Linked DNA regions of Homo sapiens. The protein of the gene in region 1 purifies or fractionates together with the protein of each later gene. This does not show direct contact. Each region holds a gene or a part of one and is shown in the gene's direction. Other genes may lie near its edges.

Region 1 (2,543 bases):
TCCACCCAGTGTCCACTGGCCTGTCCTTCAGGGAGCAGAGCAGAGCAGGTGGTGGACGGGCCCAGTGCTGGGTGTTTTCACCACCATCCCCCCATCCCCCATCTAAGAATCCTAAGAGGCAGGCGATCCCTCACCTGCTTACTCACTCAGCAGTTACCCGGCCCCTGTGCTGGAGATACCAAGGGCATGGGTGGTCCCTGCTTCGATGGCCCCAAAGCTGGGCCAGAGTTAAGGGAAAGAGGAGGAAGTCCTAAGCAGAGAAGTAGCACCATTATCCCCATTTAACAGAAGGGAAACTGAGGCTCGGCAAGCATAGGCGAGTTGGCAGTGGAACACGGATCTAAACTCAGGTGTGTCCAAGTCCTCCCAAAGGACAGCAGTGATGGAGAGGACCCCAGCCAGCTGTGTGACAGCTGGTTGTTGCTGACTTCATTTTCCAATCCGGAGAAGGGGCTCTGTCCACAGTCCCCCGCCGCCAGGTGGCCCACATGGGACCAGCATGGGGGCAGGTTATCTGTTGGCCTGAAGAGTGAAACCTGTACCAGGCCAAAGGTGAGGGCGTGAGTGAGGGCAGGAGTGTTTATGGCAGAGTGAAGTTCTGTGCCCACCACAAGAGGCTGTGAGATGTTCTGACCCTCACCCACTGTCCACCAAAAGCCTCTCCTGCTGATGGGCACTAGGAGACCTCAGGGTACTGCCCATCTGTTTCTCCTCGGGTGCCAGCCAGCTGCTGGTGATCCTCAGCCGGAGGGCAGGGTACCAGGTAAGCTTAACTCCATCTTGGGTGTTTGTGACAGGCCCTGCCTGCCACCCTAGGCAGGGAAAGCTGTCAAGACTCCTGCCAGGAATGGGGGGTGCTGAGTCATCTCACGAAGAATCCCTCACTCTTCCCGGGTTCAGCCCAGAAGCCCTTCCAGGCATGATCTTCCCCATCAGGCTGGGCTCTGGCAGGGACCTGCCCAGGATGGAGATGAGAGAGGGTGAGAGATGGAGGGCGAGATTTGGATGGGACCCAGGGCTCCTGACTCTGCCCTGGAAGGTTCATGGGGAAACTCGCTCCTTCTGTTGGCAGAGGACAGCCCCTGGGGAACCCCAGGCCCAACTCTGTCCGGTATCCCTTTTCCTCCCAGCTGCCCTCCCCTACTTCTCCCTTGCTCCCAAAGCTTTCCTTGGAGAAGGGCCCTCCTGCAGCTGGACCCTGCAGGGTGGCTCCCTCCTCCCCATCAAGCACAAGAGAGGGCCCAGGAAAAAAGGTTTCACATAAGTGTAGAGTCGCAAGGACGCTTAGAGTCGGCAGAGTCTGGGGTAGGGAGACAGCGACTTGTCCAAGGTCAAGCACAGAGGGAGAGGTTCAGGAGTCAGGTCTTCTGCCTTCTGAGTTGGCTCATCCTGGGCAGTCACAGACTGTCCTGCCTGCACGGCTCCTATCCACCTGGGGGTGTCGCAGTTGAGGGGCTAATTCCCAGGGGACTGACGTTAGTTCCCTACTCCATCCTTCCCTGGTGATTCTTGATCTTCAAAGCCTCGGGGATCCCAGGTTTCCCCATGTAACTGAGACACCCTGCCTGTTAGCCCTGGGAGACCCCTAACCTTGGCCCAAGACCCCTTTGATTCTCTAAGGAGCACGAAAGGGGGAATGCCCCTCCCAGGAGTTTATGGGAGAAGGGACTGGGCCGGCTGCCTCCCAGCGATGCACTTGACCTGACACTCCCCATGTCCTGGTGCGCACAGCCCTTGTCGGTGCCCCGGCCCCTCCCGCAGCGTTACTGCCTGTGTATAGTATAAATATATATATTTTCTATATATAAGATGTATAATATAAGGCTCCACAAATATATCTGTGTGTGTGTGTGCGTGTGTGTGCGGTGAAGGGCGGTCCCCATCCTGGGCCCCCACTCTAGACCCCCCCACCACCTGGTTAAGTCTCGAGTGAATCCAGTGGCCCCGTGGCACCCTCCTTTATGACATCCATCCATCTGTGGTGAACCAAGTGAAGGTGGTGACTTCTGGTGACATAGTAATAAAGTGAAGACTCAGAACCCACCAGCGATTGCAAGTGTGTCACCGTGTTTCTTTGTTCTTCATTCTGCGTTTGGCTTGGATGCTCCATCCCGTTTGTCTCCTTAGACAGGCCATGTCTTACTTGGTTATTATTGTTTGTTAATTTTTCATTACACAATGAACCTATGAATATATTATCTTTTTAAAAAGTAAAATTGGCCGACTGCAGTGGCTCATGCCTGTAATCCCAACACTTTGGGAGGCCAAGGTGGGTGGATCACCTGAGGTTAGGAGTTCGAGACCAGCCTGACCGACATGGTGAAAACCTGTCTCTACTAAAAATACAAAAAAAAAAAAAAATTAGCCGGGTGTGGTGGCAGACGCCTGTAATCCCAGCTACTCGGGAGGCTGAGACAGGAGAATCACTTGAACCGGGGAGGCAGAGGTTGCAGTGAGCCAAGATTGTGCCATTGCACTCCAGCCTTGGCATCAAGAGCAAAAATCCATCTAAAAAAAAAAAGGAAAATTATTACAGTTGAAGC
Region 2 (3,500 bases), on another chromosome or scaffold:
ACTCCAGCCTGGGCGACAGAACAAGACCTTGTCTCAAAAATAAAAGAATCAGGGTCAGGAAGAGCACTTCTGATACCACTACTTAAAAAAGCCTTTATGGCCAGGCGAGGTGGCTCACACCTGTAATCCCAGCACTTTGGGAGGCTAAGGTGGGAGGTGGGTAGATTGCTTGAGCTTGAGTTCGAGACCGGCCTAGGCAACATGGTGAAACCTTGTCTCTACTAAAAATACAAAAATTAGCTGGGTGTGGTGGCAGGAGCCTGTAGTCCCAGCTACTCAGGAGGCTGAGGCAGGAGAATCACTTGAACTCAGGAGGTGGAGGTTGCAGTGAGCTGAGATCATGCCACTGCACTCCAGCCTGGGCAATAGAGCAAGACTTTGTCTCAAAAAAAAAAAAAAAGCCGTTATTACAAAATTAAACAGAATTTGTAAGACACACATAACAATGTATTCTATGGTGAATTATTGTAAGGTGAACATTTTTGTAACTGTCATCCAAGTCAAGAATCAGAACTTTGCCACTCACTTCAGAAGCCCCCCTTCGTCACAATCCCCTCACTCTTTTCATAAGTAACTATTATCCTGACTTTTATATGTAATGACATCTTTGTATTTTTAAAAGTTTTATTACTCAAATGAACATCCCTAGTTCATTTGCCGTTAGGCTTAGTCTTGCCCCTAAGAAAAAAGTTTTTGTTTGTGTTTTCAATCTCTCTTAATTTTTAGGGTCCCAGGTTCCCTTTCTCTTCCATAGTGTTTATCTATTGAAGAATCCAGACAGATCTCCCATAGTTTGAATTTTCCTGATTATATATCATGATACAATTTAACATGTTCCTCTATCATCTCTATTTCCTGCAAATAGGCAGCTGGATCCAGAGACTAGATACCACTGTTTTTTGTTTTTTACTTTTTTTTTTTTTTTTCAGCCAGAGTCTCACTCTGTTGCCCAGGCTGGAGTGCAGTGGTGTGATCTTGGCCTACTGCAACCTCCACCTCCTGGGTTCAAGCAATTCTCTTGCCTCAGCCTCCTGAGTAGCTGGGATTACAGGTGTGTGCCACCACACCCAGCTAATTTTTGTATTTTTGGTAGAGATAGGGTTTCACCATGTTGGTCAGGCTGGTCTTGAATTCCTGACCTCAAGTGATCTACCTGCCTCTGCCTCCCAAAGTGCTGGGATTACAGGCATGAGTCACTGCACCAGCCTGTTTTTTAGCTTTTTACTTGAAATCATTTTAAACTTACAGAATACTTGCAAAAATATTGCAGAGAGATCTGTATACCCTTCACCCAGCTTCCCCCAATGTTAATATCCTACATAGTCATAGTACAGTGATCAAAACTAAGATGATAGCATTGGTACAATACTATTAACTAAACCATAGTTGTTAAGATTTTACCATTTTTGCTGGGCACAGTGGCTATGCCTATAATCTCAGCACTTTGGGAGGCTGAGGCGAGGGGATGCCTTGAGCTCTGGAATTTATGACCAGTCTGGGCAACATAGGGAGACTCCCTCTCTACATAAAATTAAAAAAGAGTTAGCTGGTTTGGTGGCGCACACCTGTGGTCCCAGCTACTTGGGAAGCTGAAGTGGGAGGATTGCTTGAGCCTGGGATGAGGAAGCTGCATTGAGCTATGATCATGCCACTGCACTGTATGTAGCCTGGCACCAGAGCAAGACCCTGTGTAAAAAAAAAAAAAAAAAAAAAAAAAAAAAAAAAGTTTTACCATTTTTTCACTAATTTTTTTTCTGTTCTATGATCTAATATTCCATATTGCATTTTTATTTTTATTTTATTTATTTATTTATTTATTTTTTTGAGTCAGAGTCTCGCTCTGTCACCCAGGCTGGAGTGCAGTGACACGATCTTGGTTCACTGCAAGCTCCGCCTTCCGGTTTCATGCCATTCTCCTGCCTCAGCCTCCCGAGTAGCTGGGACTACAGGTGCCCGCCACCTCGCCTGGCTAATTTCTTATATTTTTAGTAGAGATGGGATTTCACCATGTTAGCCAGGATGGTTTCGATCTCCTGACCTCATGATTTGCCCACTTCAGCCTCCAAAGTGCTGGGATTACGGGTGTGAGCCAGCACGCCCGCCCCCCCCTTTTTTTTTTTTTTTTTTTTTTGAGACGGAGTCTCGCTCTGTCACCCAGGCTGGAGTGCAGTGGCGAGATCTCGGCTCACTGCAACCTCCACCTCCCAGATTCAGGAGATTCTCCTGCCTTAGCCTCCCGAGTAGCTGGGATTATAGGTCCCTGCCACCATGCCAGCTAATCTTTGTATTTTTAGTGGATACGGGGTTTCACCATGCTGGCCAGGCTGGTATCGAATTCCTGACCTCAGGTGATCCACCTGCCTCGACCTCCCAAAATGCTGTGATTACAGGCATGAGCCACCGCGCCTGGCCACATATTGCGTTTAGTTGTTATATCTCCTTAGTCGTTTATCTGTGATAGTTCCTTAGCATTTCCTCATCTTTTATGACCTTGACACTTTGAAGAGCTCTGGTCAGGTATTTTGTAGAATGTCCCTCAATTTGGTTTTGTCTAATGTTTTCTTGTGGTTTGACGGAGGTAATGGATTTTGGGGAAGAATACCCCTGAGATGATATGGTCCTCTCAGTGCATTGGATCAGGGGTGCATATTGAAATGCCCTAATACTGGTGATGTCAGCCATAATCCCTTGGTTAATGTAGTGTCTGCCAGATTTCTCCACCATAAAGTGACTGTTTCCCTTTGTAATTAATCAGCATTTTAGGGGCTATTCTTTGGAGCTCTGCAAATATCCTGTTTTTAAATTTTTGCCTACTAATTTTTGCATTCATAGGTTAATCTTGCCTGTAACAGTCATTACTCAGGTGTTTCAATGGTGACTTTTCTGTTTCTCTCATTCATTTTTATTTAATAATTAAAATTCTTCTGTAAGGAAGAGTTGTCATTTCTTTGCATTTATTTAACTATTTATGTCAGTATAGATTTGGATATTTTATACTCTGGACTCTGTATACTATATTCATTCTGTTGTTTGGATTATTCTAGTTTTGGCCATTGGGACCGCTTTCATCTTGACCCCTTTGTCCTTTTGCCATACCTCTATCTCACTTTTTTTTTTTAAAAGCACTTTATTACATTCTAGAACTATAAGATGATCCAGGTTTATCTTGCTTAGTTCAGCCCTGGAATTGACCACTTCTTCAAGGGCCCTGGCTCCTTTTATTAGAGAATGTTATTTAGAAACAAAGTTCTGAATGCTAGGTGTGTTCATTGCAGCTGGAGTGATGCTGCTTCTTAGGCCCTCAGCTAGAAGTATAGGGACACTACTGCTTTTGAACAAGCTTTTGTCCTTATTGATACGGGAAACTGAAAAATAATATTTGTCTTATACAGGATGATATGCTTTTATTATCACCCATAGGAAAAGTATACCAAGGTAACTAAGAATTATTGGCCAGGCATAGTGGCTCATGCCTGTAATCTTAGCACTTTGGGAGGCCA
Region 3 (3,500 bases), on another chromosome or scaffold:
GTTTTAGGGTCTTTTGAACTAAGTCATTGTGAGGGGACCGTGATAGGTTTCAGGATTTCAGTGATTTTTTTTTTCCTTCCCCAAACTATGCAGAATTTGGCTACAGGTTCATAGGTTTACTTTTCCTGGGAGAGGGGCCATAACTTTTAATCAAATTTTTAATAAGCTCTGTGACCCATTTAATAATCATTTCATTAACTTAGTATCTGATTTATCAATTCAACAAATGTTTCTTTAATACCTACAAGTTGCGTATTACTGTACTAGGTTTTGTGGGCTACAGCAAAGAAATAGAAGATATTGGTTCTACTTTCAAGATAATTTTAAGCTGTAAGATAAGACACAGAACAACTAGAGAGAGCAATTCTTTTTTTTTTTTTTTTTTTTTTTTGAGACAGAATCTCGCTCTGTCACCGGTTGGAGTGCAGTGGCGCAATCTTGGCTCACTGCAACCTCCGCCTCCCGGGTTCAAGTGATTCTTCTGTCTCAGCCTCCCGAGTATCTGGGACTACAGGTGCCCACCACCACACCTGGCTAGTTTTTTGTATTTTTAGTAGAGACGGGGTTTCACCATGTTGGCCAGGATGGTCTCGATCTCTTGACCTCGTAATCTACCCGCCTCGGCCTCCCAAAGTGCTGGGATTACCAGACCCGGCCAACTAGAGAACAATTCTAAGTCAACATCTAAGCAGATAAGAATGTGTGTAGTTCAGGCTGGGTGCAGTGGCTCATGCCTGTAATCCCAGCACTTTGGGAGGCCAAGGTGCGCAGATTGCTTGAGCCCAGGAGTTTGAGACCAACCTGGGCAACATGGTAGAACCCCACCTCTACAAAAAATGCAAAAATTAGCCAGGCATGGTGGCGTGCGCCTGTGGTCCCAGCTACTTGGAGGGCTGACGTAGGAGGATTGTTTGCTCCCAGCAGGTTGAGGCTGCAGTGAGCTGTGATCATGCCATTGCACTCCAGCCTGGGTGACACAGCGAGACCTTGTCTCAAAAAAACAAATGTGTGTAGTTCAAAGCTTTAGAGAAATGATGTGTTTTTTAAAAGGGTCACTTGGTGGCTGTTTTACTCAGGAAATTTTCATGAAGGACCAGACAAGAACTGTGGGTCTTTTTGTGTTCTGTGTATCTGGCTTAGAACCTGGCACGTAATAAGTAAATTTAAATAAATTTACTAAAGTAAAAATTTACTTAAAACTGGACAAATGGCTGGGCGTGGTGGCTCATGCTTGTAATCCCAGCACTTTGGGAGGCCGAGGCGGGCGGATCATGAGGTCAGGAGATCAAGACCATCCTGGCTAACACGGTGAAACCCCGTCTCTACTAAAAATACAAAAAAAAAAAAAATTAGCCGGGCGTGGTGGCAGGCGCCTGTAGTCCCAGCTACTCTGGAGGCTGAGGCAGGAGAATGGTATGAACCTGGGAAGGCGGAGTTTGCAGTGAGCAGAGATCGCGCCACTGCACTCCAGCCCGGGCAACAGAGTGAGACTGTCTCAAAAAAAAAAAAAACTGGACAAATGAATGAAATAAAGGGAGTTGTGAGCTCAGTAACAAGGTTAGTGGAGAGGGGTCCAAAGCAAGTGGATACATGAGAGGTAGGGTTTTCTCGCTCCATTGCCCAGCTGGAGTGCAGTCACATGATCTTCTCAGCTCACTCCGCCCACCGGGTTCAAGTGATTCTTCTGCCTCAGCCTCCCGAGTAACTGGGATTACAGGTGTGTGCCACTACACCTGGCTAATTTTTGTATTTTTAGTAGAGACGGGGTTTCGCCATGTTGGCCAAGCTGGTCTCGAACTCCTGACCTCAAGTGATCCGCTCACCTTGGCCTCCCAAAGTGCTAGGATTATAGGTGTGAGCCACTGCACCTGGGTGAGAGGTAGTTTTTTTTTTTTTAAAAAAAAAAGAAGTTCTGTGGCTGGCAGGGGTTGAGAAGGGGCTATTTTAAGGAATAGTGGAAATATAGGACAGGTCATTGAGGGCATTGAAGGCTTTAAACATTACAGTGAAGAGTTTATTTTGATTCAGTTGTCAATAGGAAGTCATTGTAGGAAGTTACTGTGGTCTGCTGACAGTGGGATCCTTGGAGAACTAATCAGTGAGTACAGGGTAGCTGGAGGCACAGAGACCAGCCAGCACTGCTGTAGTAGTTCAGATATGAGGGGAAGAGTCCCTGGCAAAGAGAAAGGATTAAATTCAGAAGCACTGTAGAGAACCATTGGCAGGCTACAGAATTGAAAGTTGGAGAGTAGAAGTGAAAAGTACTTTGGGTCCCAAGTATCTGAGCTTAAAAAGTAGGAGAATATTAGTACCACTAATAGACATTGAAAGGTCGAGAAGACCAGCCAGTTTGGGGAGAAAGCGGAGATACAGGGAAATTGGGATTGAAATATTAGTTGACAGCAAAGAAGGAGGTGTGTTGTAGGCAGCTCAAGATGGAGAGTAGATTTCGAGAAATAATTGGTATAAAGATTTTAAAGGAAATGGTCTCTGTAACAACTGACCTGACTTACCTTTGATTCTACCTTTCCCTAGATCAAAAATGTCCTTCTTCTTCTCCTTCTTCTCCCCCTCCTCCCCCTCCTCCCCCCTCCTCCCCCCTCCTCCCCCGCTTCTCCTTCTCCTTCTCCTCCTCCTTCTTCTTCTTCTTCCATTAAAGTCATAAACACATTCTTCTATACCCATCTCAAATCCTACCCTCTCTCTGTAGCCTTCCTTGACCTCCTAGCTGGATGAGCTCTCTCTCCTTGTTGTAAACTCAGGTATTATTATCTCTGTCAACATTGCTGACTAACCTTTGGTACACATAGAATGAGTTGTGGAGGATGGCAGAATGTTGTTATTTGAATTTGGATGAAGAGCACATGGAAGTTAATTATATTCTTCTTTTTGTTGTTGTTTGAGACAGAGTCTTGCTCTGTCACCCAGGCTGGAATATAGTGGTGCGATCTCGGCTCACTGCAACCTCTGCCTCTTGCCTCCCAGGTTCAAGCGATTCTCATGCCTCAGCCTCCCAAGTAGGAGCTGGGTTTACAGGCATGCACCACCATGCCCAGCTAGTTTTTGTATTTTTAGTAGAGATGGGATTTCACCATGTTGGCCAGGCTGGTCTTGGACTTGTGGCCTCGAGAGATCTGCCTGCCTTGACCTCCCAAAGTGTTGAGATTATAGGCATGAGCCACTGTGCCCAGCATATTCTTTACTTCTTTTGTATGCTTGAAAGTTTCCATAATAAAAAATAAAATGAAAGAAGTCAGCTGTGGCACTTAAAAGAATACAGATCCCTAGGCCCCACTCTTGGCCATTCTTATTCAGTAGGTCTTGGGTGGACCCTGGTTGTCTGGATGTCTAAGAAGATCCACTAAGATGCCTGATGTGTATCACACATTCAATTGGCACCTAGCAGTGGAAACCTCATGTTGTATTTTGAGCTCATTCATTCATTTCTCAAGTCATTTGCCCCTGGTACTGTGCTAGGCGCTGGGGATTCAAATAAGACA
Region 4 (3,500 bases), on another chromosome or scaffold:
GCGGATCACCTGAGGTCAGGAGTTCGAGACCAGCCTGGCCAACATGGTAAAACCCCGTTTCTACTAAAAATACAAAAATTAGCCAGGTGCAGTGGCAGGCGCTTGTAATCGCAGCTACTTGGGAGGCTGAGGCAGGAGAATTGCTTGAACCTGGGAGGCAGAGGTTGCAGTGAGCCGAGACTGTACCATTGCACACCAGCCTGGGCAACAAGAGTGAAACTCTGTCGCCAAAAAAAAAAAATAATGGTGATGGCTACACAATGTTATAAATATTAATGCCAATATTGTAAATATTAGTGCCACTGAATTGTACACTTTTAAATGGTTAAAGTGGCAAATTTTGTTTATATATATATTATTTTTACTGCAATAAAAGTTTTTAGTGTGATATAAATAAAACAATTTTCTAAATTAAAAAATGAGATTTATTTTTATATTGTAAATATTTTTATATTATAAATGCTTAGTTTTTAATGTTTTACTAATATCTTAATCAACCTATATACTTGGGGCATTTAATTTTTAACAGTAATGGATAGAAGCTTATACTTCAAGTAGTAGCAGTAGTCTTGATGATTTAAAAGAATTTTTTTTTGGCTGATGTTGTCAGATATAATAGATTGTTTTTAACCTGTGGCTGCTGAGGAGCTCACTAAGAACAGAAGCTGGCTAGGCGTGGTGGCTCGCACCTGTAATCCTAGGACTTGTCTGAGGTTGGTGGATCCCTTGAGGCCAGGAGTTCAAGACCAGCCTGACCAACATACCGAAACCCTGTCTCTACCAAAAATACAAAAATTAGCCAGGCGTGGTGGCTCACACCGGTAGTCCCAGCTACTCAGGAGGCTGAGGCAGGAGAATCACTTAAGCCAAGGAGGCGGAGGTTGCAGTGAGCTGAATCATGCCACTGTACTCCAGCCTGGGCGACAGAGTAAGACTCTGTCTCAAAAAAAAAAAAAAAAAAGTTTATTTTCTGACATTTTTATGTTTATTTGCACTTGTGTTAATAGAAGTATTTTCTTAATTTTTTAAGTTACCTTCCCATATTGTGAAGATTTGTTTATGTAAATTTAATGCTACCTGTATTCAACTACCTGTACATCTCACCTGCATAACTCTCATTTCAAACCTGTAATTGTTTTAGTAAAAAAAATGTTATTTATAGAAGTTTACTTTGCTGTTACAAGAAGATTTATTTTTCAGGTGCACGAGAAACAGACTACCCTGCAGGAGAAGATCTTTCAGAATCTGGTCAGGTAGACAAAGCATCTTTATGTGGAAGTATGACAAGCAACAGCTCAGCAGAGACAGACAGCCTGTTAGGAGGCATCACAGTGGTTGGTTGTTCTGCAGAAGGTGTGACGGGAGCTGCCACTTCCCCTAGTACAAATGGTGCTTCTCCAGTGATGGATAAACCACCAGGTATATCCATTCTCTTTACCTGCCATCTGTATAGAGTCTAAGGCTACACTCAGATGCCTCATTATGGACTTAATTTAGATCTTAAGTAACAAGGTTGAAAGAACTTGAAAGAAGATACTGTAGGCCGGGCGTGGTGGCTCACGCCTGTAATCCCAGCACTCTGGGAGGCCAAGGCGGGTGGATCACGAGGTCAGGAGATCAAGACCATCCTGGCTAACACAGTGAAACCCTGTCTGTACTAAAAAGTACAAAAAATTAACCGGGCGTGGTGGCGGGTGCCTGTAGTCCCAGCTACTCGGGAGGCTGAGGCAGGAGAATGGCGTGAACCTGGGAGGTGGAGCTTGCAGTGAGCCAAGATCACGCCGCCGCACTCCAGCCTGGGCAACAGAGCAAGACTCTGTCTCAAAAAAAAAAAAAATGCTGTAATGACTGTTAAATGGAATGAAGAATTCTTAATTTCATGGTACAGTGTGAAGGAGTGGGTAGATGGAATGGAATTCTATAACAGGGGTTTGTGTGGGGAAATAATTGGAGGAGAAAAGCCCAGACTTGGAATAGTGTTTTATTTACTTTGTAGAAATGGAAGCAGAAAATAGTGAGGTTGATGAAAATGTTCCAACAGCAGAAGAAGCAACTGAAGCTACAGAAGGGAATGCGGGGTCAGCTGAAGACACAGTGGACATCTCCCAAACTGGCGTCTACACAGAGCATGTCTTTACAGATCCTTTGGGAGTTCAGATCCCAGAAGACCTCTCCCCAGTGTATCAGTCGAGGTATAATAATGGGTCATCAACTTAGGCAACTGGGTGAAGTGCACAAATAAAAGGAACCAAAATAATCTCAAACAGTCAAAAGATTTCCACTAATTAGTGTCACTGTGGTGGATTAAAAGATACCTATTCTTGTGATAATTTCATGTATTCCCGCTCCATCATTCTCGCTGGATATTCCCCCCCATTTCTTCTGTACACCTTCCAATTTAAAAAAAAAATCTTATCTATAAAAGTATAATCATGCATCAGTCAACAATGGGGATATGTTCTGAGAAATGTGTCATTAGGTGATTTCATCATTGTGTGAACATCATAGAGTGCATTTACACAAATCTAGATGGTATGGCTTATCACACACCTAGGCCATATGGTATAGCCCATTGCTCCTAGGCTAGAAACCTGTACAGCATGTTACTGTACTGAATACTGTAGATAATTGGAACATAACGGTAAGTATTTGTGTATGTAAACATGCACAAGGTACTGTAGAAATATAGTAGTATAATCTTGTGGAACCACCACCATATATTCTGTCCATCATTTTCCAAAATGGTTTTACCAGGTGTGTGACTATATATTAGTCAAAATCTTTCTGTTCATTTTCTCCTCTGATCTGTTTTTTTTTCTTTTTTTTTGTACTTACTGTCTTCCATTCTATAAGTAATTCTTTGTCATTTTAATCCCACCCCTACTCTAATTTTCACTCCAGTTATCAGCAAAATTGGCCATTGTTTAAATCTGCCATTGTACAAGTTTCCCACATGGGTGTGGATGACCTTTTTGAATTTAGTTTTCATGCAAATATTTTATTAAAAAACAACTCAGATAGTTCCAGTGGCTCATGCCTATAATCCCAGCACTTTGGGAGTCTGAGCAGGAGGATTGCTTGAGTCCAGGAGTTCAAGACCAACCTGAGCAACATAGTGAGACCCTCATCTCTACAAAAAACTTAATGATTCGCTGGGCGTGGTAGCGTGCACCTATGGTCCCAGCTACTCAGGAGGCTGAGGTGGGAGGATTGCTTGAGCCCTGGGAGCTGGAGGCTACAGTGGGCCATGATATCACCACTGCACTGCCGCCTGGGAAACAGAACAAGACTCTGTCTCAGAAAACAAACAAACCAAAGAAAACTGTTTGTTTTAGGCTCCTCCGTTAAAGGGTTGGTTAATCTAGGCCCATTTAGTGAATTATTTTATTTTCTTTCCTGCCTTTTCTAGATCCCCTCTAGATGAGAGTCTCTTTAAACTAGATCCTTTTTAAAGTTTAATATTCTTAGTGTATAAAGTAAGAAAGATTAATTAATAACCC
Region 5 (3,500 bases), on another chromosome or scaffold:
ATGGCCTTCTTAAAAGGACACCAGTCTCAGATTTTGGAGCACCCTGATCCAGTATGATCTCATCTTAATTAGTTATATCTGAAAGACTCAAATATTTCCAAATAAGGCCCATTCATAGATACCAGAGGTTGAGACTTCAACATATCTTGTTCAACGTATCAAATTGTGAGTTGACACAGTTCAGACTGCAACTTGGCCATATGTATTAACCAATTAAATTTTTCTCATATTGCCAAATATGTATTAAAAATAGAAGTTAACTCAAAACTTGGGTAGCAGGAAATAACTTTTGTCTTCATTTTTCTTTGGAGAATTAAACTTAACTGAGCAGACTATAAAAAGTTCATGAATTCTGTATTTTAATTTTGGTAAAGCATTTAATAGTCTCATTATATTCAGATGGATACAATGATGAAATATAGGCTGTGTGACTTTACTTACAGTGAGTGTTGATAATGTCTGTGTTCCAACCTGAAAGGGAGTCTCTTATGTCTTAGGAAGTTTTTCAAAATACAGTCACCCCTCCATATCTGTGGATTCTGCATCTGTGGACTCAACCAGTTGCAGATTGAAAATATTCAAGAAGGAAAAATTGCATGCCTACTGAACAAGTATTGTGTCTGTACTGAATACTTACAGACTTCTTTCTTTTCATTATTTCCTAAACAGTACAACTATTTACATAGCATTTACATTATATTAGGTTTTATAAGTAGTCTAAAGATCATTTAAAGTATACAAGAGGATGTGCATAGGTTATATGCAAAAACTACACCATTTTATGTCAGTGACTTGAGCATCTGAGAATTTTGATATCCAAGGGAGGTCCTGGAACCAATACCCCATGGATACTGAGGGACAACTGTCTTGTCTTAGCTCCAGCTGTTATCAGTGACTTTCTGGAGTTTATTTATGTTTGTTTTGTTTTTTAATATTCAAGACAGTTTAAGGAGAGACATCAAAGAAAACAGACATAGTACTGGAGATTGTCAAGGTATGAATAGCAGCACCAACCAGTGGGCAAAGGAATCTTGTGTAACGGCTTCTAACTAGATTTTGTGGACCAATACAAGAAAATGTATATCTATTTGAGAGGGGCGGGCCGTGTGGACAGGGAAAAGGGCTGGGTATAAAAACTGACCTAGAATTACATTTTTTAATTTTGCTGAATAAAGACATCCAAAAACAAAACAACCTCTGTTATATCTGTTTTTATCATTTCATAAAGGAAAGGCTGTTTTGACAAAATGGAATAAAATAATCTCAGAATAAAGGACACATTTTAAAATGGAATAAATTTAGCTTTAAAAGTTCTTTTCTACGTTGTCCATGACTAGAAAATTTTGTCACAGAATAGCAATGACTTCTGGCAAGCATTGATGATCTGAGGTATTTCCAAACACATTTTTGAAAATGGCTTACCACACTGAGTAGAGAGGCAAATAGAGTGGGAATGGAGCAATGAAATTGGGTATCTGGTAGGATTTAAAGGATTTGAGAACACCAGTGAAAATGAAGAGCAGATTTATCTTAGGAAAGAGCTTGAAGGGTAGTTCCTACTTGGGGAGGTAAATGTGTTTTGGATTTTAGAGGTGGAACAGTTTTAAGGGTTGACCTTGCTCATGGGTGGCTTTCCATAGAATTAAGATGGAGGTCACAGGAGGAGAAGCGCTGTTAAGCTTACATGGTAAAAAGGTTTTATTGTGAATGAATGCTATAGGATAAATGCCATCAGAGCATGAATTCCAAAGGATGATAATGGAGTGGGGGAGAAGCATATTGAATGATCTGGGTGCTGAAGTCATTAAGCAAATTATGAATATATTCAGATGTTAGTGGAATATAGCAACAAGTACGGAAGTGAGAATCAGTGTGTACTGTGGTTTGGAGCATAGTTTCAAGTTCTACCACCTGCTATGTAGCCTGGGAAAATTATTTGACAGTTCTGTGCCTCATTTCCTCATCAAAAAGTAGGATTAAAAATAGTACCTGCTGCTTCATAGAGTCATTTACAAGATTAAATGAATTAATGTTTAAAGAGCTTCAAATAATACATAGCACAAAACATGAGAGATGGTTGAGAAATATGGTAAAACATGATACTTCTGTAACCTGTGAGTCTCAGAAATGACTAAGGATTGGAATGGAACTGCTGCCAATAGAAAGTCAGGTTTTATAAAGAGAGCAGACAGCAATTTCTTTTAGAAAAGCTAGAAGTTATTGGATACCTTGTTTATGCCAGACAGTGACTTTTACAGTAGGTTGGCAAGTATGCAAAATGGAATGAATTTCTTGGAGGTAGGTTAGTGCTGAGCTTTCAGGAATGGGACTGGTGGAGTAGCTGAGGGGCGAGGTGCTCCATTCTAGAGTGATATCCCCTGGAAAACAGGGATGGAGGAAGCTAGAGATGGGTAGGGAGCCACATGATATATTCCAGCTAGACTTTCAAGGGAGGAGTGTTGAATAGGTTGTATGTATTATTAGGAGATTTGTAAAACTAACTGCTTGCCGTATCTTTATGCTTATATATAAATTAAAAGAGCATTTAGAAAGCTCATTATACAAATATAACATTTATATAAACTTTTAGAAATGTAATTCACTGTTTTATTCATTTGTTTAACAGTGCTATACTGACTATGTGATGGCCACTGTTCTAGGTCCTGGGACAGTAGACAACAGGAAAATCCTTCTTGTGGATCTTATTTTTATATATTTACTTACCTAAGTATGACATACTGCTGTGATTTGAAAGATGTGCTACTGTGGTGTTTCTGGGAAAATTTCCTTCCTTCCTTTTCTCAATAAATATTGAATACCTGTTCGCTAGGCATTGGAGATACAAAGATCAAGTTAGACATGGTTCCTGCTCTAACAATCCGGTGGAGGAAACAGAAAAAGAGGCAATTAGAAATAGTGTGATAAAGGTACAACGTTCTAGAAGCAGATAGACTTTGAAGGCCATGGAAAGTTTTTTTGTTCCCCCTGCTTGCTCAAGGTAGAGATGAGTAGACTGGACCTTGAAGAGTAAGTAGGAGTTAGTCAAATGTAGAGATGCGGTAGGGGGAAGAAAAAATATTTCTGGCAAAGAGAATAGGATATTTAAGGAATTGAAAGTGATTTAATATGGTTGGAACGTAGACTGTGAGTGATTGGGTTTGAAGAGAGGTTAGCAGGACCTGGTTTTTGAAGGGCTTTGTAAAACATGTTAGGATAGAATCCAAGCTCTTAAGTGTAGTGGGAAGGGAAGTTTTACAAAGATTTGAAGAGAAATATCAGATTTATGTATTAAAAAGATAATTTATTATTACAGTATAGAGAGAGAATTGGAAGGTTGAAGATTAGAGGTTGTTGAAGCAATGTAGTGATAGATTGTGGCAGTTGGGACTAGGAACATACTTGGACATAAGGAATTTCTCAGTAGGCCTGAAGAAGAGAAGACAGGCAGATTTAAGAGAAATTTAGAAATAGCTTAAGTCTAAAGATATAACCCATGTTTC
Region 6 (3,500 bases), on another chromosome or scaffold:
TTTAGGCAGAAAGACTTCTTGTTTGTATAAGAAAGTTAAAGCATTTATATTTTTATTTATTGTTTTGAGATGGGGTCTCACTCTGTCGCCCAGGCTGGAGTGCAGTGGCCTGATCTTGGCTCACTGCAACCTCCACCTCCTGGGTTCAAGTGATTCTCTTACTTCAGCTTCCCGAGCAGCTGGGATCACAGGCATGTGCCACCATGCCTGGCTAATTTTTGTATTTTTAGTAGAGACGAGGTTTCACCATGTTGGCCAGGCTGGTCTTGAACTCCTGACCTCAGGTGATCCACCCGCCTTGGCCTCCCAAAGTGCTGGGATTGCAGGCGTGAGCCACCACACCCGACAGAAATTTAAGGCTTTTGAAATTGAGAATGCGGTTCTGGCTTTTAACGGGATATGCTTAATCATTTTAAAAAATGAATTAGTTGCAAATAAGTGTGCTGCACTCAGGCATCTTGCCAAAATTCTCCCCACTTTTCATCTCTTGAGGAAGGCTTGGCATAAGCACACTTTTCTGGATTTCCCAGTTGTGGATTTCTTCTGGGCAAAGGTTTAACCCTCCTGGCAGAGTGTTTTTGGCAATGTGAATTGTCTGTTGGAGGAACATCAGCCAGCACGCCTCCAGTCACAGTTGAGAGTCTGTCTTCTGTTTCTGATGAAGCTGCTCCTGGGTGGGGCTCTGGGCCAGCATCGCTCAGGTGCCCGGGCCACCCGAGCCTGTGGTGTAGCTTGAGCATGTGCTTCTTGAGAAAAGCCTCCTTTTCTGCTGCGCTCCTTGTGGGGCGTCTGTGGCTTCAGGGATCACATGTGTCTAACTGGACCCTTGAAGAGCTTTGCTCATTTGGGCCCTTGCTTGTCCGCTTTGTCTCTGTTCCCACAGAGTATAATTTGAGATAAATTGTTACCATGGGATTTCACTGTATTTCCTTGTCCTTGCTATGAGTAAGTTTTGTGTTAAAACAAAGTTAGATCAGTTAACAAAGTTGAGAGTGAACCGGAGTGCAAACGTGAACTGGCTCAGGCTGATGGACGGTCAGAGTGCACCACTGACTCTCTTTCCTTCTCTTTCAGGGTTGGTACATTGTGACCTATGCCTTGGGGATCTACCATCTAAATCTTTTCATAGCTTTTCTTTCTCCCAAAGTGGATCCTTCCTTAATGGAAGACTCAGGTAGGGTAGCGGCTGTGCACTGGGCTGTGTGGGCAGGTTGGGCCTTTCTTTTCTGATGGGATTGCCCAGTGTTCTCTGGAAACACCCGAGACTCTTCTCTTGGGGTTGAAATGTACTTGTAATGTTGGGTGATCAGGATATGTTTGTAGAATGACTCTTCAAACCCTCCTGACAGCCACGAAGTGGGTGTTCATTCTGTTTTCCCACTTTGCAGATGAGGAAACTGAGGCATACAGGGTTAGGTAACGTGTTCGAGGTCACATGGCACCACAGACAGTAGGGGTCTGAGGTGGACAGTCCGACTCCAGCCCCCGTCCCACCCCAGTCAGTGGTCCCTCTCAGAATCAGCGGAGGCAGCCATGACGAGGTTACCTTTTCCCGTAGCCAGAGGGTTCCACAGGCAGCTCACTGTGGTGCACAGAGACCGCCGGGACTCTAATGCCAGCATCGGGTCGGGTCAGGCTTTGGGCGGCCTTCTCTGGTTTCTGAGGAGCTGTGAGCTGAAGTGTTCCTGGTGCTTCGTGCTCCACTATTGGAAGACTTACGCAGCTCCTGGGCCTGCCTGGGCCAGGTAGGGGCCCTGAGTTCATGCCTGACTGGCCAGCCCCAGGCGAGGAACAAACAACTGCATTCCAGGACGTGGTGGCCATTGAGGGAAAACCCACACGCAGCTCCCTGCCAGGACCCTCCTCGTTCTGGGGGAACCTGCTGTCAGGGAGTAGGGTATGCTCTCACTGTGTGGCCAGAAGCCTGTGAGTCTTCTGTGTAGGATATGTGATGAAAAGATTGCTGGGAACACAGCCCCTCTCTGTTGTTGCTGTTTGGAGGAGACTAGAAAATAACAAAGAGCCCCTTTCCTGTAGGCCTCAGTTTTCCCATCTGTAAATGGGGAGCGGCACCCATCCCAGTGGGGGAGGCGGGGTGAGAGTGGGCTTGGCACAGCTGCTGGTGGGACAGGCCTGGCGCCCGGGTTCCACGGTCAGCGCATCCTCGGCCCCGCCCTGTTCTCTGCCGCTTGCTTTTTATGTTAATTTGCCTTTGTTTTCTTCTGTGCCTTTACGTGGTGCAGCTGACGTGTTCCTGGATGTTTATATGTGGTTGAATTCTTCGTGCATTGAAAACGTGTGGAAGTCTAAAAACATTCTGATAGCACCTTCTGAAAGCAGTGAATTGGATGTGTCAGTTGACCACAGACCCCCGTTTTCTCGTTTTCTCTGGTTAAATGACATGAATCTCGGTTTAGATTTGTGAGGCCTGCTAGTCCAAAGCCTTGAGGGGAAAAGGTAGAACTGTGATGGGAATGAAAAGAGGTGCCCTCCCTGATGGTTGCTCTGCCTTACAGATGACGGTCCTTCGCTACCCACCAAACAGAACGAGGAATTCCGCCCCTTCATTCGAAGGCTCCCAGAGTTTAAATTTTGGTGAGCTAATTCTTCACGGTATTTGAAGAGAATTGTGCTCAAGGGTGGCTGAGACTGAGACTACACTGATTTTTGTTCAAGTCACCTGAAAGATGACTGCTGTGCTGGGCTGGGCACGGGGAATCGCAGGGGCTCTCTGTAGAAGGCCACTCACTACCTTGCCGCATTCTCTTGGTTTCAAGTCAGCACCAGTGCCCTGGAGGTTGAGTCTGGGATGGAGTGCGCACCGGCTTCTGTGGTTGTGGCCTGGGGAGGGCAGGCCCTCTGTCCTCCCTCCTCCTCCCTCCTCCTCCCTTCCTCCCTCCTTCCTCCCTCCTTCCTCCCTCCTCCACCCTCCCTCCTCCCTCCTCCTTCCTCCCTCCTTCCTGCCGCCTCCTCCCTCCTTCCTGCCTCCTCCTCCCTCCTTCTCCCTCCTTCCTCCCTCCTCCTCCCTCCTTCCTCCCTCCTCCTCCCTCCTCCTCCCTCCTCCTCCCTCCTTCCTCCTTCCTCTCTCCCATCCCCAGCCTTGTGGCTCCTTTTGGCTGGCAGAGGGACTAGCCTTCTCCTGGAGTCATTTTTGAGAGGGGTTTGAGCCGAGGTGTCCGTGTCTGCACGGGTAGGCAGAGGTGGGTGGTGCAGCCGTCAGAGGGACGGGAGCGTGTGCATCCGTTTGTCTTGTCCCTCATACCCCACTCTGGGAGCACAGGAGGAACCCAAGTCTGTTAGATCAGTAAACTGAAGGAGCCTGCTGAGCTCGTGGGGCTCCACGCCTTGACTTTGCAGCCGCAGATGGAGTGTGGTACAGAAAGATCAGGGGCCCTGGAAGCCACCAGAAGCTTGGACTAGGAAGGGAGAGCTGAGCCTCCAGGGCCGTGGCATCTGTTGGCCATGTGCTGGGACGGGAGGGAGCACTGGTGGCCATGCCA
Region 7 (3,500 bases), on another chromosome or scaffold:
AAACATAAAAATTAGCTGGGCATGGTGGCAGGCGCCTGTAATCCTAGCTACTTGGGAGGCTGAGGCAGGAGAATCGCTTGAACCCACAAGGCAGAGGTTGCAGTGAGCTGAGATGACACCATTGCATTCCAGCCTGGGCGACGAGTGAAACTCTGTCTCAAGAAAAAAAGAAAAAGAAAGAAGGGGCTGGGTACAGTGGCTCATGCCTGTAATCTCAAGACTTAAGGTGGCTACGCCGGGCGCGGTGGCTCATGCCTGTAATCCCAGCACTTGGGAGGCCAAGGCGGGCGGATCACGAGGTCAGGAGATCGAGACCATCCTGACTAACACAGTGAAACCCCGTCTCTACTAAAAATCCAAAAAATTAGCTGGGCGTGGTGGCAGGCGCCTGTAGTCCCAGCTACTCAGGAGGCTGAGGCAGGAGAATGGCGTGAACCCGGGAGGTGGAGCTTGCAATGAGCCGAGATCGCGCCACTGCACTCCAGCCTGGGTGACAAAGCGAGACTCTGTCTCAAAAAAAAAAAAAAAAAGACTTGGGGAGGCTGAGGCAGGTGGATCACTTGAGGCCTGGAGTTTGAGACCAGCCTGGCCAACATGATGAAACCCCATCTTTACTAAAAATACAAAAATTAGCAGGGCGTGGTGGAGCACGTCTGTAGTCCAGCTTACTTGGGAGGCTGAGGCATGAGAATCGCTTGAACATGGGAGGCAGAGGTTGCAGTGGGCTGAGGTCACGCCACTGCGCTGCAGCATGGGTGACAGAATGAGACTCTGTCTAAAAAAAAAAAAAAAAAATTACAAGCAAAAAGGGCCACCAGGCACAGTGGCTCATGTCTGTAATCCCAACACTTTGGGAGGTGGAGACGGGATGATCACTTGAAGCCAGGCGTTCAAGACCAACCTGGGCAAAATAGTGCGACTCCCGTCTCTGCTGAAAATTTAAAAATTAGCCAGGTGTGGTGGTGTACACCGGTAGTTCCAGCTGCTGGACAGGGTGAGGAGGAGAATTGCTTGAGCCCAGGAGTTGAAAGCTGCAGTAAGCCACAGTAGCACCACTACATTCCAGCCTAGGCCACAGAGCCAGACCCCGTCTCAAAAAAAAACCAAAAAAAAAAACCCAAAAAAAAACCGGCATGTGTGTGTCATCACTGTGAATATTACCAAGTTGCCTCCGTGGCAGTTTTTACCAGCTCCCCGTAGCCATGGCTAACAGTGCCTGTTTCCTCCCTACTGTGCCAGCATTGTGTTTTATCGCACTTTGTAATGGCCTCGAATCTTGGGTTTGTAACCACAGTTCCATACCTCCGAGTCCTCAGGGAGGCCACTGGGACCTCTCTGAGGAAAGAGCCAGCCTGGCGGCCCCCCATAGACACTGAGAGGTGCCAGATTCCAGCAGTTCTCCTCCCTCCCCAGGTCCCTCGCCGGCTCCCTCGGGGCCTCCACTGCAGCGCAGCTGCCCATAGCTCTGAACAGTCCCTGGTTCCCAGCCCACCGGAACCCCGGCAGAGGCCCACCAAGGCTCTGGTGCCCTTTGAGGACCTGTTTGGGCAGGCGCCTGGTGGGGAACGGGACAAGGCGAGCTTCCTGCAGACGGTGCAGAAATTTGCGGAGCACAGCGTGCGTAAGCGGGGCCACATTGACTTCATCTACCTGGCCCTGCGCAAGATGCGGGAGTATGGTGTCGAGCGGGACCTGGCTGTGTACAACCAGCTGCTCAACATCTTCCCCAAGGAGGTCTTCCGGCCTCGCAACATCATCCAGCGCATCTTCGTCCACTACCCTCGGCAGCAGGAGTGTGGGATTGCTGTCCTGGAGCAGATGGAGAACCACGGTGAGGCCAGGAGGCTGGCGCAGGGTGGGGAGTGGGCTACACTGATAGCTGGCAGCACCTCTCCTGAGTCTCAGCCCCTCCTTCCTCCATGGCTCCGTCTCTGTCTCTCTCGCTCTTCTCCCTCTCCGAATCCCTCTTTTCATCACTCATCTCTCTTTCTTGCCTCCCTCTGACCTCCCCTCCCCTCCCCCCTCCCTCCCTCTCCTCCCCCCACTCTCCTCTCTTCTCCTCTCCTCCCTGCCTCTCTCTCCCTCCCTTCCTTCCTCTCTTTCTCTCTTTCTTTTAGAAATGGGGTCTCACTATGTTGCCCAGGCTGCTCTCAAACTCCTGGACTCAAGTGATCCTCTCCCCTTGGCCTCCCAATGTGCTGGGATTACAGGCATGAGCCTTTTTCTTTCTAATTCTCTCTGATTCTTTTCTCCCTGTCTGTGATCAATTCCCTCACTTCACTGTTTTCTTTTCTCCTCTTCCCTTCCCTCCTCCCCCTCCATCTCTGAGGTTCTGCCTGCATCTGCCCAGCACAGGTGTGATGCCCAACAAGGAGACGGAGTTCCTGCTGATTCAGATCTTTGGACGCAAAAGCTACCCCATGCTCAAGTTGGTGCGCCTGAAGCTGTGGTTCCCTCGATTCATGAACGTCAACCCCTTCCCAGTGCCCCGGGACCTGCCCCAGGACCCTGTGGAGCTGGCCATGTTTGGCCTGCGGCACATGGAGCCTGACCTTAGTGCCAGGGTCACCATCTACCAGGTATCCGCCCTTGTCTACAGCGTCAGCTGCCACCCCAGGCCAGGCTCCCGCCATTCCTCCCCTGGGCTCCCCTTCTCTCACTCTAGTGATTGTGGTGAATCAAGTTCTTTTTTGAGACAGGGTCTTGCTCTGTTGCCCAGGCTGGAGTGTGGTGGCACTATCTCGGCTCACTGCAGCCTCTGCCTCCCAGGCTCAAGCGATCTTTCCACCTCAGCCTCCTGAGTAGCTGGGACTCCAGTCACACACCACTATGCCTGGCTAATTAAAAAAACTGTTTTTTTTTTTCAGAGACAGGGTCTCACTATATTGCCCAGGCTGGCCTTGAACTCCTGGGCTCAAGCAATCCTCCTGCCTCGGCCTCCCAAAGTGCTGGGATTACAGGCATGAGGCACTGTGCCTGGCCGTGAATTGAGTTCTGATTCTCTGGCTGAGTCCCCTGGTAGGTTCCCATGGTCCTTACTGCTAGCACAGCTTGAGTGACCTCTGCTTCAGTCCGTTCAGGCTGCTCTAACAAAATCTCTTAGCTTGGGTCATTGATGAACAACAAAAATTTATTGCTCACAGTTCTAGAGGCTGGGAAGTCCAAGATCAAGGTGCCACCAGATCTAGGTCTGGTGAGGGTTTGCTCTCTGCTTCAAAGATGACACCTTGCTGTGTCCTCACATAATATAAGGGGCAAACAAGCCCCTCAGACCTCTTCATATTTTTTTTGAGACAAGGTCTGGCTCTGTTGCCCAGGCTGGAGCGCAGTAGCACTATCTTGGCTCACGGCAAATTCCACCTCCCAGGCTGAAGCCATCCTTTCACCTCAGCCTCCCAAGTAGCTGGGACTACAGTCGTACACCACCACGCCCGGCTAATTTTTGTATTTCTTGTAGAAATGGGGTTCCACCATGTTGCCCAGGCTGGTCTCAAACTCGT

Evidence for each region.
Region 2: the proteins of SYNGR1 (region 1) and PIGU purify together in Homo sapiens (affinity purification with mass spectrometry; one large-scale study listed by BioGRID and IntAct). This does not show direct contact.
Region 3: the proteins of SYNGR1 (region 1) and MTMR4 purify together in Homo sapiens (affinity purification with mass spectrometry; one large-scale study listed by BioGRID and IntAct). This does not show direct contact.
Region 4: the proteins of SYNGR1 (region 1) and SPAG9 purify together in Homo sapiens (affinity purification with mass spectrometry; one large-scale study listed by BioGRID and IntAct). This does not show direct contact.
Region 5: the proteins of SYNGR1 (region 1) and ERGIC2 purify together in Homo sapiens (affinity purification with mass spectrometry; one large-scale study listed by BioGRID and IntAct). This does not show direct contact.
Region 6: the proteins of SYNGR1 (region 1) and RER1 purify together in Homo sapiens (affinity purification with mass spectrometry; one large-scale study listed by BioGRID and IntAct). This does not show direct contact.
Region 7: the proteins of SYNGR1 (region 1) and ECSIT purify together in Homo sapiens (affinity purification with mass spectrometry; one large-scale study listed by BioGRID and IntAct). This does not show direct contact.

The regions. Positions count from the first base shown.
Region 1 is NC_000022.11:39,383,533-39,386,075, forward strand, and holds the end of SYNGR1 (synaptogyrin-1), read left to right. Parts: 3' UTR 1-2,043; downstream 2,044-2,543. UniProt on the Homo sapiens protein: May play a role in regulated exocytosis. Modulates the localization of synaptophysin/SYP into synaptic-like microvesicles and may therefore play a role in synaptic-like microvesicle formation and/or maturation.
Region 2 is NC_000020.11:34,667,093-34,670,592, reverse strand, and holds part of PIGU (GPI-anchor transamidase component PIGU), read left to right. Parts: intron 1-3,500. UniProt on the Homo sapiens protein: Component of the glycosylphosphatidylinositol-anchor (GPI-anchor) transamidase (GPI-T) complex that catalyzes the formation of the linkage between a proprotein and a GPI-anchor and participates in GPI anchored protein biosynthesis.
Region 3 is NC_000017.11:58,497,639-58,501,138, reverse strand, and holds part of MTMR4 (phosphatidylinositol-3,5-bisphosphate 3-phosphatase MTMR4), read left to right. Parts: intron 1-3,500. UniProt on the Homo sapiens protein: Lipid phosphatase that specifically dephosphorylates the D-3 position of phosphatidylinositol 3-phosphate and phosphatidylinositol 3,5-bisphosphate, generating phosphatidylinositol and phosphatidylinositol 5-phosphate.
Region 4 is NC_000017.11:50,988,369-50,991,868, reverse strand, and holds part of SPAG9 (C-Jun-amino-terminal kinase-interacting protein 4), read left to right. Parts: intron 1-1,200; coding exon 1,201-1,419; intron 1,420-1,996; coding exon 1,997-2,192; intron 2,193-3,500. UniProt on the Homo sapiens protein: The JNK-interacting protein (JIP) group of scaffold proteins selectively mediates JNK signaling by aggregating specific components of the MAPK cascade to form a functional JNK signaling module.
Region 5 is NC_000012.12:29,374,673-29,378,172, reverse strand, and holds part of ERGIC2 (endoplasmic reticulum-Golgi intermediate compartment protein 2), read left to right. Parts: intron 1-3,500. UniProt on the Homo sapiens protein: Possible role in transport between endoplasmic reticulum and Golgi.
Region 6 is NC_000001.11:2,398,341-2,401,840, forward strand, and holds part of RER1 (protein RER1), read left to right. Parts: intron 1-1,074; coding exon 1,075-1,174; intron 1,175-2,516; coding exon 2,517-2,595; intron 2,596-3,500. UniProt on the Homo sapiens protein: Involved in the retrieval of endoplasmic reticulum membrane proteins from the early Golgi compartment.
Region 7 is NC_000019.10:11,512,135-11,515,634, reverse strand, and holds part of ECSIT (evolutionarily conserved signaling intermediate in Toll pathway, mitochondrial isoform 1 precursor), read left to right. Parts: intron 1-1,413; coding exon 1,414-1,831; intron 1,832-2,355; coding exon 2,356-2,579; intron 2,580-3,500.